Linked DNA regions of Homo sapiens: region 2 is linked to region 1. Evidence: fine-mapped expression QTL. A gene starts in region 1. The other region holds a variant in brackets. All regions are shown on one strand. Distances are between the middles of the regions.

The links. PIP is the estimated chance that this variant, and not a neighbour inherited with it, causes the effect.
Region 2: its variant is fine-mapped to the expression of TNFRSF25 in whole blood (TOPMed, PIP 0.99).

The regions. Positions count from the first base shown.
Region 1 is chr1:6,464,006-6,469,362 of GRCh38, forward strand. TNFRSF25 (TNF receptor superfamily member 25) reads right to left here and starts at 2,168. Exons shown (of 10, transcript NM_003790.3): 1 at 2,064-2,168; 2 at 1,435-1,555; 3 at 1,083-1,217; 4 at 547-714; 5 at 370-448. The coding sequence starts at 2,102. It overlaps PLEKHG5 (pleckstrin homology and RhoGEF domain containing G5), which reads right to left. Exons shown (of 21, transcript NM_020631.6): 18 at 5,330-5,357; 19 at 5,037-5,236; 20 at 3,820-4,581; 21 at 3,117-3,567. The coding sequence ends at 3,558. RefSeq lists an enhancer at 1,989-2,937.
Region 2 is chr1:6,495,651-6,501,007 of GRCh38, forward strand. It overlaps a transcript of PLEKHG5 not described here. Among named protein-coding and RNA genes, the nearest start is that of PLEKHG5, 6.7 kb to the left of the region's middle. RefSeq lists an enhancer at 1-426 and a silencer at 2,130-2,219. The variant C/T (reference allele first, on the strand shown) is at 3,017.

The sequences.
Region 1 (5,357 bases):
CCAGGCTGAAGTGCAGTGGCACGATCATAGCTCACTGCAGCCTCAACCTCCTTCAGCCCAAGTTTTAAAGCTATATCAATGTGACTCTCTGTGTAAGTGACAAATCATCTGTAATATCTGGCTAGGATCGCTGGGGGGAATGCTGGCTGAAAGTGAAGGCAAATACCCTTATGTATCTGGCTAAGGCGGATCCAGATTGCTCTTTTGCCATCTAAGTTTGCCTGAAGTGGGGCCCACCCATCACAGGGCCAAGGCTCCCTCCTCCCTATCCCCTCTTCCTATTCCTGAACCAGCAGCACCTGCCCCACCCCAGGCCCCTGCTCTGCTCCCAGCCGCCCTTCCCTCCATCCCACGACAGCTAGGAATTACGTGGGGCAGGACACGCAGCCATCGCCATGTTCATAGAAGCCAGGCAGGCAGGTCCCACAGTCAGTATCTCTGCGGGAACCTGCAATCCAGGAGAGGCATGCGTCACCATGGGACAGGAGTGGGTCAGGCAGGGAGAAGGGGGTCTGGGAGTAGAGAGCCCTGGGTGGGGGTACTCACAGAGTAGCCGTGTGTGGCGGTGCAGGGCCCCGCAGTCTAGGCATGGTTGGCAGTAGAAGGGTGAACTGCTGACACATTGGCTGACCTGGCACTCCACAAACCAGCCTGGCTTACAGCCACAGCGGGTGTCGGCCACTGCTGAACAGTTCTCCAGCGCCACCTGGGAGGCTGGTGGGGGTGCAGGGAGATGGGGAGTGGAGAGTTAGTCAGGGCCAAAGGCTCCCATGGAGAGGCAGAGGCATTATCCCAAGATAATGGAGACAGAAATAGGCGAAAGACAGACAGGTACAGGGCTACCCTAAAAAAGAGAGAAGCTCAGAGATTAAGGCCGACCAGAGGCCAAGGCACATGGAGAGATGGGAAGGTCACCAGGAAGAGAGAAGGGGCAAGGGCACCCTGAAGGAGGATCAGGGTGGAGGGTTCTGGCAAGGGTGGGTGCAGGACCCTCACACCCCAAGTTTGGGCCCGAGCCAGCCACTTCCTTCAGAAAGGCCTGTCCTTAGGAACTCCCTGCCAAGCACTGAGAAGCCCCTCACCCTGCTCATCACAGGCCTGGCAGCGGGCACATTCAGAATTATGGTGGTTCTCCCAGGCCAAGAAGGTGTCTTGGGGACACACAAGGCAGGTGGAGTTGCCGCAGGGCTCCGTGCAAGGGGCCTTCAGGTAGTGCCCTGTGGAACCAGGCAGGGGTCAGGCAGGCAGAGGGGCTGCCCAGCAACCCCCGACCTGCTTCCCACCCTGCCCTCCCTCCCTCTTTCTCTCCAGCTCCCTACTTCTCTGTCAGCCTACCCCTACCTCCCCTGCCAGCCTCCTCTTACCTCCCGGGCCTGCCCGCCACCTCTCCAGCCCTGCCTGCCCCATGCCTCTCCCACCCCTGTGGCCACTTACCCGCTGGGCAGCCTCTGCAACAAAACAGACCAATCTTCTTGTGGAAGTCACCGGCACAGTCACACCTGGGGCTACGAGTGCCGCCCTGGGCCCGGGCCCCCAGCAGCACCAGGAGGAGCGCCTGGGGGACAGGTGCTGCTGACTCTCAGCGCAGCTGCCCACGTGGGGCCTCTCCCTGCTGCGTCTCCTCCATTTCAGAGGCCCCAGCATTTGCCCACAGAGCAGCCCACTTCCCAGGCCCCGGGCAGAAGGGGTGCCCATGGGTGGAGAGGAAACTAACTTCCTTCCCCCCGCGCACACACCAGGCTTCGGAGGGGGCGCTTACCAGCCCCTCACAAGTTTCCCCTCCACCAGAGCAGGAATCCAGCAGCGCCCCCACCCCCACCCATGCTTTCTGTTGGGGGAGGGACACTGATAATGCTCTGCCTGGGGCCCCCAGACCCTCCTGGGAGGGGTTTCCTCTCAGTGGAAGGGCTACGCCCTGGAGGAGCCTTTAACGAGATCGGAAAGGGCGGCCAACCCAGCCCCCAGTGAGGCTTGGAGTGGAGACGCGCCCGGGGCCCCTTCCTTCACCGAGGCTCTTGGGACAGGGCTCAAAGCTGCCCCTAGCCTCCTGCGTCTCAACTCACCGCCGCCACCGCCGCGCAGCCCCGCGGCCGCTGCTCCATAGCCCTCCGACGGGCGCCCAGGGGCTTCCCGGCTCCGTGCTCTCTGCCCGTCGTGGTTCCGCCTTCAGCCCCGCGCCCGCAGGGCCCGCCCCGCGCCGTCGAGAAGGGCCCGCCTGGCGGGCGGGGGGAGGCGGGGCCGCCCGAGCCCAACCGAGTCCGACCAGGTGCCCCCTCTGCTCGGCCTAGACCTGAGCTCATTAGGCGGCAGCGGACAGGCCAAGTAGAACACGCGAAGCGCTGGGCTGCCTGCTGCGACCAGGGGCACAGGATAGAGCTGCATCTCGGTCCCCACCCCGACTCTCGCCCCAACCCTGAGAACCACTTCAAGGTAGAGCCAGGGCAAGTGACTTCTCTCTCGGCCTCCGCGTCCCCAGCCATGGAGGAGGTTGGGCCAAAAGTACCGCAAGGGGCCAAGCGCAGTAGCTCAGGCCTGTAATTCTAGCACTATGGGAGGCAGAGGCGGGCGGAACACTTGGGGTCAGGAGTTCGAGACCAGCCTGACCAATATGGTGAAATGCCGTCTCTACTTAAAATACAAAAACTAGCCCGGCGTGGTGGTGCACACCTGCAGTTCCAGCTACTAGAGTGGCTGGGGCAGGAGAATCGTTTGAACCCGGGAGGCAGAGGTTGCAGTGAGCCGACATCACACCACTGCACTCCAACCTAGGTGACAGAGTGAGACTCTGTATTAAAAAAAAAAAAAAAGTTCCTGAAGGGACCCCCATGGAGGACCCACCTTCCCAAGAGGGCTGGCCTGAGTGTGGGAACTGGGCAGATTCAGCCCTGAATCCCCGGGGGGCACCTGGGGAGAGGCTCTGATGGTGGCTGAAGGTGGGGAAGTCTGGGGGTGTTGGTCTGGTGGCACCCCACACCCCATTACTTCCCAGTGCTTCCCATGGCAAGCTCCATCCGTGGCCCATCCGTGGCAAGTGGAGGAGCACAGGAACACAAGGAGGCCGCCCTGAACTCAAGTGCCCCGAGTCACTGGGCCCCAAAGCAAAGGACTCTTCCCAGTGGAGTCTAGACAAGTCTTTATAAAAGAACCAAAAGCTCAATAAATACGTAACTTCACAGAACCCAGCCCAAGCCAGGGGTGGCCTGTGGGACTGGGAAGGTGGGGGCAGGGCAGGAGTGAATCCCACTGGAGGCCAGTGAGGGTAGAAGTAGGATGGGCAGCCTAGGAGCCCAGCCCTGAAGACTCGAGCTGAGCTGGTAACTTCGGGGAGTAGGTGACGAGGGGCTGCCTGGGCAGGTGGGGTGGTACTGTGGCCTGGGCCTCCTCCACTCCATCCAGTCCGGCAAAGCGCAAATCGGGCCCGGGCGTAGGCAGGGATCCTGCCCAGCATCCGGCTCATGCATACAGGAGGCAGTAGCTGAAGCAGGTGCCGGCACGCCCCAGGAGGCAGGCTGTCTGCTGTCTCTTGGTCAATGGCACTCTTGGGGGCCTCCCTCTGCTCAGACCTCCCTACAGGGTGGGGAGGGGACAGAGTCCTTCTTTGGCTGACGCCATTCAGAGTGGCTCTGGTCACCCTCTCTTCCCCACGGCACTCCTCAGGCCCCTTCACTGCTGCCCACCACAGCCCCCTGCGCCCAGACACTGGGCAGGGTTCAGGCTCCCTCCGCCATGACCCTCCCCAAATGCGATGCTCCCAGGCATGAGTGGGCCCCCATGCCAGTGCCCTGAGCCACCTGCCCTACCCCAGTCCAGGCCACTCACGAGGCAGTGAGCGTGGAGTTAAGCAGCAGGGTGGTCCTGATTCGGTAGAGCTGGGCCAGGGTCAGCTTCCTGTGCTGGGCAGAGACCCCTGGTGGGGGCTCAGGCTGGACCCTGGGAGAGGCCCCCGAGGGCAGGTCTCCACACCTCTTCCTGTGGGAGCCTGCAGGTTCCCCGGCCAGGCAGCCGACTAGCCCAGGACCGCTGCCAGGGCTAGGGGCCCCTCGGCAATCCCAGCTGGGCCCAGCTTCCTGAGGGGAGCCCTGAGTCCTAATACCTGGGGCTGGAACAGCCAGGCAGAGCTCTGACAGGCTGCGGCTGGGGGCAGAGGGTGTCCCATGGGTGCCAGCCCCTGCCAGCAGCTGGAGGAGGCTGGCCTCGGACTTAGACTTGAGCAGGTGGGGCGGGCAGCTCAACAGCTGGACAGGGGTGCGGCGGCGGAGACGGGGCGAGGGTGGAGGGGAAGGAACTCGTGGGGACTCTGGGGCCCGAGGCACTAGCTCTGCCATTGGGCCTGGGGCCACAAAGTCTTGTAAGGAGGTTGGGGAGAGGGTGCCGTAGGCAGAGTCCATGGAGCAGGAGCGGCCGTCCACCGGACCCAGGGGCAGCAGCTCACTGGTGGGCGTGGCAGATGAGGCAGTGGTGCTGAGAGAGGTCTCATCAGACTGGGAGCTGAAAGGACCGCTGTCGAACTCGGGGGAGGACAGCGTGTCCCCAGGCTCTACCACAACCATGGCCAGGGTCTCCGTGGAGCCATCTGAGGCACTGTGGGGCCAGGAGCAGAGTCAGCCCAGGCCATGAAACCTAGATGGCCTGAGGCAGCCCCAGGCTGGGCAATGCACGGTGGTTTATACCCTCTGCCCTCCTGGGGCTGGAGGCTCAGAGATGGCAGCATGTGGCAGGTGTGGCAGATCTTCCAGCTCCAGTGCCCACAACAGACCTCAGTAGCGAGCCCAGCACTCTTCCCTGCCAAGGCTGGATCTGCCCTAAGGATCCTCAGCACAGCACCCCAGGCAGCTACCACGAATGGATCAGGGCTGGCAGCACATGGAAAGGTGTCTGCCCTCCCCACCCGGACTCTGGGGGAGACAGAGCCCCGCTCCCACAGTGTTCATGACAAGAGGCCATTGGGAGGAAGGGAGCGTGGCTGGGCCTTCAGGAGTCCTGGGCTAGAGTACTTGTCCTGGTTTGACCTGCTGGGTGGTCATGAGCAGACGTACCAGTGCTGAGAGTCGGGGCTGCCGCTGCTTTTCCGCATGATGGTAGGGGAGCTGGCAGCTGAAGTGCCACTGTCCTCGCCTTCCTCCTCCTCCTCCTCCTCCTCCTCTTCCTCCTCCTGCTCATCCTCCTCCTCTTCCAGGCTCTGCAGGGGCTGCTGACTGCCTGGGGGCTCCTGTGCACGCAGCTGTTGCAGCTGGTTCTGCAGGCAAGGTTGGGGTACATGGGACAGAATGGGTTGTGACCAGCATCTCCCTAATCTGCCTTGCCCACCCACTCACTACTCTGCACTCACCTGGGCATTGTAAATGGTGTCCACCCAG
Region 2 (5,357 bases), 32 kb after region 1:
GGTGCCTGCGCCAGATGCTAAGTTGCGCAGTTGTCACTATTGTCATGTAAATGCATGCTGGGAGGGGCAAAACCTGGCTCCAAACCCCGGCTCCATCTCTCATGAGCTGTGGGCCTTGGCCAAGTCACTGGACCTCTCTGAACCTTGGTGTCTTCATCTGGAAAACGGGGTGACGATGCCTTCCCTGCAGAGCTGCCGCAATCAGTGCATATGGCACAGAAAGCGGGTGGCACTAAGCCCAGCACATCACAGGCAGAAGCGCCCAGCCAGTACTATTATCCTCCTTCCTGCCCCCTTTATCCCTGATTTATACTTCGCCCCACTCCCAGCTCCCAAGCCCTGGCACTCCAGGATCAACTGGCCCCTTCCTCCTTTTGTCATCCCCAGGGCCATGGTCACACTCGCCAAGTCCCAAAGCATCTCAGACCCATGCCCAGGCCTGAAGAGTGGCTGAGTTCAACAGGAAGGGTGCCATCTGGGCACTGGACCAGCACCGTGGGAGACCACTTCCCCTGGCTAAGCCTCAGTTTCCTCATCCGTGACATAAGGCTACAGCTCCTGTCACCTCAGAATGGCTGCTAGGACCACAGTGCAGCAAAGGGCTTTGGGGTACTCCACCCCCCTGTTCTTGTAGAAGTCCCCCGACTCCACTGTTCCTGAGCTGGGGGCAGGCCCTCTGCCTCCTAAACCAGACACACTGTGGCCCCACCTACACTTGAACCCAGCCCAGCCAGCCGCGCCCGTGCCAGGGCTCTGTGGATAGCTGGTGCTGGGATAGAAAGGGCAGTTAGAGCCCTGGCCCCTCTGCCCCCGAGGGTCCCCAGGCTCTCCAGCCTCCCTACCTTGGCCGCCCGCCCCTTGTCCATGCAGGCGGGGTTCTGACAGCGCAGTCCCTTCTTTTCAGCGGGGCTCTGGTCGTCTGCAGGGGAGGAGCAGAGGGCATCAGTCAGCGGGGCACCCAGGCTCCCCTGGGCCCCACTGGCCTCCCAACCGGAGGAGGGGTGGGGTGATCTCCTCAGTCCTCCCTTCAAAAGAGGTCAGCGTCCCTTTCTCTTTTAAATGCCAACTTATCTGCACGGGAATCCGTTTGCAGAGCCCTTTTCTCCTGCAGTCCTCAGGGAAATTATCCAGATTCCACGGGGAGAAAACATCTTTGGAAATACGCTGCTCTCTCCCTCTGTCCCTCTAGTCTGGGGGACAAGTGGGGGAGCGCTCAGTGACCTTTTGGGGCCCCAGACTTCCCAGGGGGTCCCGGCAGGGCTGCTGGGGGGAAGGGGCTCCAAGATCCCAGATCCCTGAGAACCTTACGCCCTGCATCGCTCCCTTTAGAGACAGAGGAGCCCCCGAAGGTCTGGGGCGACCCCCGTTCCCCAAGACTCATCTTTGACCCTGAATTTGGCCCCCTCCAAGCTGCCTCTCTTCCTGGGGGCTGGAGTGCACCGCGGTGGGGGCAGAGCGGCGCAACCAGCGAGAGGCGGGGGGAGGGAGGAGAAGCGGGGTGCTGCCGAGGCAGGCCCCGACTTGGGGGCCGAGTTTGGGTACGAGCGGCCCGAAGCCCGGTCGGCGCCCACCCCCTTGCCTGGAGCGGGCCCTCCCCGGAGGAGGTTAGGAGCCGGCCCGGCCCCCCAGGACCCCGCCCCGCGTCCGCCGGGTCCCCGCCTGCACTCACCCATGGAGCAGGCCCCGTGCCGCGCGGGGGGCGGGCGGCGGGCGGGGGCGCCGGGGACGCCGGGGACTGGGAGGCCGCAGAGCCGCCGCCGCCGGACCCTCGCACGGGAGGCGGGCGGGGCAGGTGGGCGGGGAGGAGCCGCGGCGGCCCCGCCTCGGGGGCGGGGGGCGGGGGGACAGGAGCGCGGCCGGGCCTCGGCGCCGACGGTGTCACCCCTCCCTCCCCGGCTCCCCGGCCCCTGCGCGCTGCGGTCCGGAGGCTGCCTCCACCTCCCGGAGGGCGGGCACCGGGGCGGCTCAGGAAGCGCGCACGGCTCTGTCCTGGAGGGTGCCATCCACGCGGAGGGTGCCTGTCCGCAGGAATGCAGGCCGGGAGCCACGCAGAGCCCCCACCCCAGCCCGGAATCGCTGTCTCCGAGGTCAGTTTCCATGGCAACACGGAGGCTGCCCCGCGCAGGGTGAGGGCTGTCACCGGGAGAGACTCGCCTGCCACGGCTCTTGCTGCATGTCCTCTGCTGGTTCAGTTTTAAACTTTATTGAAGTGCAAACGCGGACAGAGAAGTGCACCTGTCCTGTGAGCACAGCTCAACACATTTTCAGGAAACTTTCACAAAATAACCTGTGCCCAGACCGAGCTGCAGAGCGTCCCCACCCAGTCCCCAGCCCCCGCCACCTCCCTCGTGCCAACCGGTCCCCCCAAGGGCACCGCCGCCCTGACTTCCAACACATCGATTCGTCTGCCCGGTCCTGTAGTTTATGTAAATGGCATCAGGAGATAGCAAACCCTTTGCCCTACAGAAACAGCCTCGCAGAGGTGGCCAAGAGTCTGCGGGGGCTCAGTGCTCCTGAGCCTGCCTCTGGACCCCCAGCCCACCCTGCACACTGGCACCAGGAGGCATTGCGCCGACAAGACCTAGGTATAGAAGATGCAGCTTCCAGCAGGGCCGGGTCCCTCTCCCAAAGGCTAAGGGTGGACTTCCCTGACCCCTTCACTGGAAGGCCTCTCAGCTGGAGCCTCCCTGCATGGACTCCTTACATGGGCTGGGTCCGGCCCTGGGACTCACAGGTGACCAGAAACTGGTGCCTGCCCCAAGGACTCCTGGCACAGCAAAGTAGCACGGATCCCGGGTCTCCTGAGCTCTCTGGATTCATTCAGCAAACACACTAAAGATCCTCTGAGGATCCCCATGAGCCAAGCTCTAAGCTGGGTGCTGGGGACTCACTGGTGACCCTGACAAGACTTGGGGAGCTCACAGGGGGCCTGGTGGGCAGGGTAGCCCTTTGGGGGGCAGCACATCTGCATGACCCTGGGGAGGGGGCTCTCGAGGAGGGGCTGCCACAGGCACCC[C/T]GGGGGCCTCCAGGCTGAGAGGGAAGCAGCTGCCCGGGGCCCTGGGCCTCCTCAGTGCACAGCCTACGGGAACTCTCAGGATCCTCAGGCCCAGCCCAGCCTCACCCCCACACTGTGCTCATTTCCCTCTCCGAGTCTCTGCTCTCAGCCATCCAAGGGGCCAGCGATGCCTGTCCTGCCTCTAGGCTGGAGGTGGAGGCAGCCGAGGCAAGAGACGGCCCTGTGAGGACTGTGGCGAGGTCCCTGCCTGCTGGGAGGAAGCTGACTTGAGGGTGGAGTGGGGTTCGGGGCTTTTGTCTGCCATGACTCCAGCAGGCCCTCCTCTGCCATCTGTGTTTCCACGGGGACCTGGAGCCCTCAGCCAGCTTTGTGGGAGTTTCCCATGCGTCCAGCCTGGGACTTCTCCAGCTGAGCAGGACAACATCTGCTGTCCGCCCAGAAAGTTTCCAGGCCCCTGCGTTCTCAAAACTCTGAGCCTGGGGTTGGATTCTCACACCCTTTGCCCCAGGGCCTCTGGATTGTAGCCCCGTATTCTGAAGGCTCCGGGCCATGTCTTCTGCCACTGGGTCTGCCTCACCAGCTCCCTAGATCCCCCCATGACTGCTCAGGTCACAGCCACCATCGGGCCTGACTATCCTGTGGCCTCTATGCCACTTGGGTTCTGGAATTCCTTGTCCTTTGCCTGGTACTTCCTGGCACTGGGGTCTACCTGCCTGAACTCTCCGGCCTCTGACCCCTGGTCTCAGCAGGCTCCAGGTGCTCACCCTGCCTTCTAGACCCTACACTCCTGATCCCCTGGTCCTGGCTCCCCTGGGAGGTAGCTCCCTCTGGGCTCTGCTCTAAAGCTGCAACTTCCTGCATTGCGTAGGCGAGCTCCTCTCTCCTGGAGACTGCAGACACGAAGAAAAATCCATCAGGACCCTGGTAGCTCTCAGGGCCCAGAGTGGGGCCTGTGGGGCTTGGGGGTGAGGTCAGGACAAGCAGTCCCCACCATAGGCCTGTCATGAGCTCTCCTGCAGGTGACCTATCCCCATCTACAGCCTTCGAGGAAAGGGTGGGCCTGGTAAGGGGGACATACTGTATCAGGTGATAGCGTACCCTGGACATAGCTGGGTTTTTCTTAATTTAATTTAATTTAAAATTTATTTTTTGAGACAGGGTCTTGCTCTGTTACCCAGGCTGGAGTGCAGTGTTGTGATCAGGGCTCACTGCAGCCTCGACCTCCTGGGCACAAGTGATCTTCCCACGTCAGCCTACCGAGTAGCTGGGACCACCGGTGCACACCACCATACCTGGCTAACTTTTTAATTTTTTTATAGCAACGGAGGTCTCACTATGTTTCCCAGGCTGGTCTCGAACTCCTGGCTTCAAGGGATCCTCCTGCCTTGGCCTCCTAAAGTGCTGAGATTATAGTTGTTGAGCCATCTACATAGCCTGGCTCAGCCAGTCAGATTTGCTCTCCTGAGACTATGAATTGAGACAGGCCTGGGAAGGAAACATGATTCCGATCCCCTTCCTGATAGGAGCCCACAGGCAGGACTACTACTGGGCCCTGGAGACTTGAGTCCACTGAGAGTCAGTCCAAATAGGTACGATGCCCCAAGATTGTTGGGGAGCAGGAAAAAGGGGAGCAGCCCCTCAGTGGAAATCACCCCAGAGCAGACAGGGCAGGAGAAGGCAGCTTTGTGAGAGTGGGCAGCTCTCGGGGTGGCAGGGGGGCGGCCTCCTCTGCCTGCCCCGGGCTTCCCTTGGGAGCCCTGCCTCTTCGTAGCAACCCCTCTTATGTGGACCAGCCTAAGCGGTGTCTGCTCCCCGACCTCAGCCCGACCCTAAGCAGACCTGGAACCCTGAACTCCCCCCTCCGCTAAGCAAACCTGGAACCCTGAACCTCCCCTCCAGGCAGACCTGGAATCTTGAACTCCCCCCTCCCCTAAGCAGACCTAGAACCCTGAACTACCCCCTCCGCTAAGCAAACCTGGAACCCTGAACTCCCCCCACCCCTAGCCAGACCTGGAACCATGAACTACCCCCCTTGAGGCAGACCTGGAACCCTGCACTCCACTCGTCCCTAGGCGGACCTGGAACCCTGAGCTCCCGCCACTGCATGCCAGACACTGCCTCCCCACGTGCGCAACAGCCCAGCTGCCCTCCTGGCTCCCCCACCTCCCGTCGCAGGGAGACCAGGGCCCTTGGCCAGGCAGAGGAGCCTACTCGCCAGTTCTCCCCCGACCCTGTCTCAGTCGCAGGAGGCCACTTGGGCTTTGTCCTGAACATGATCTCTACCAGAACTGGGCCTCGGGGCGCGGGCAGAACGGCCGGCAGACATGTTTTGTTTGGCTGA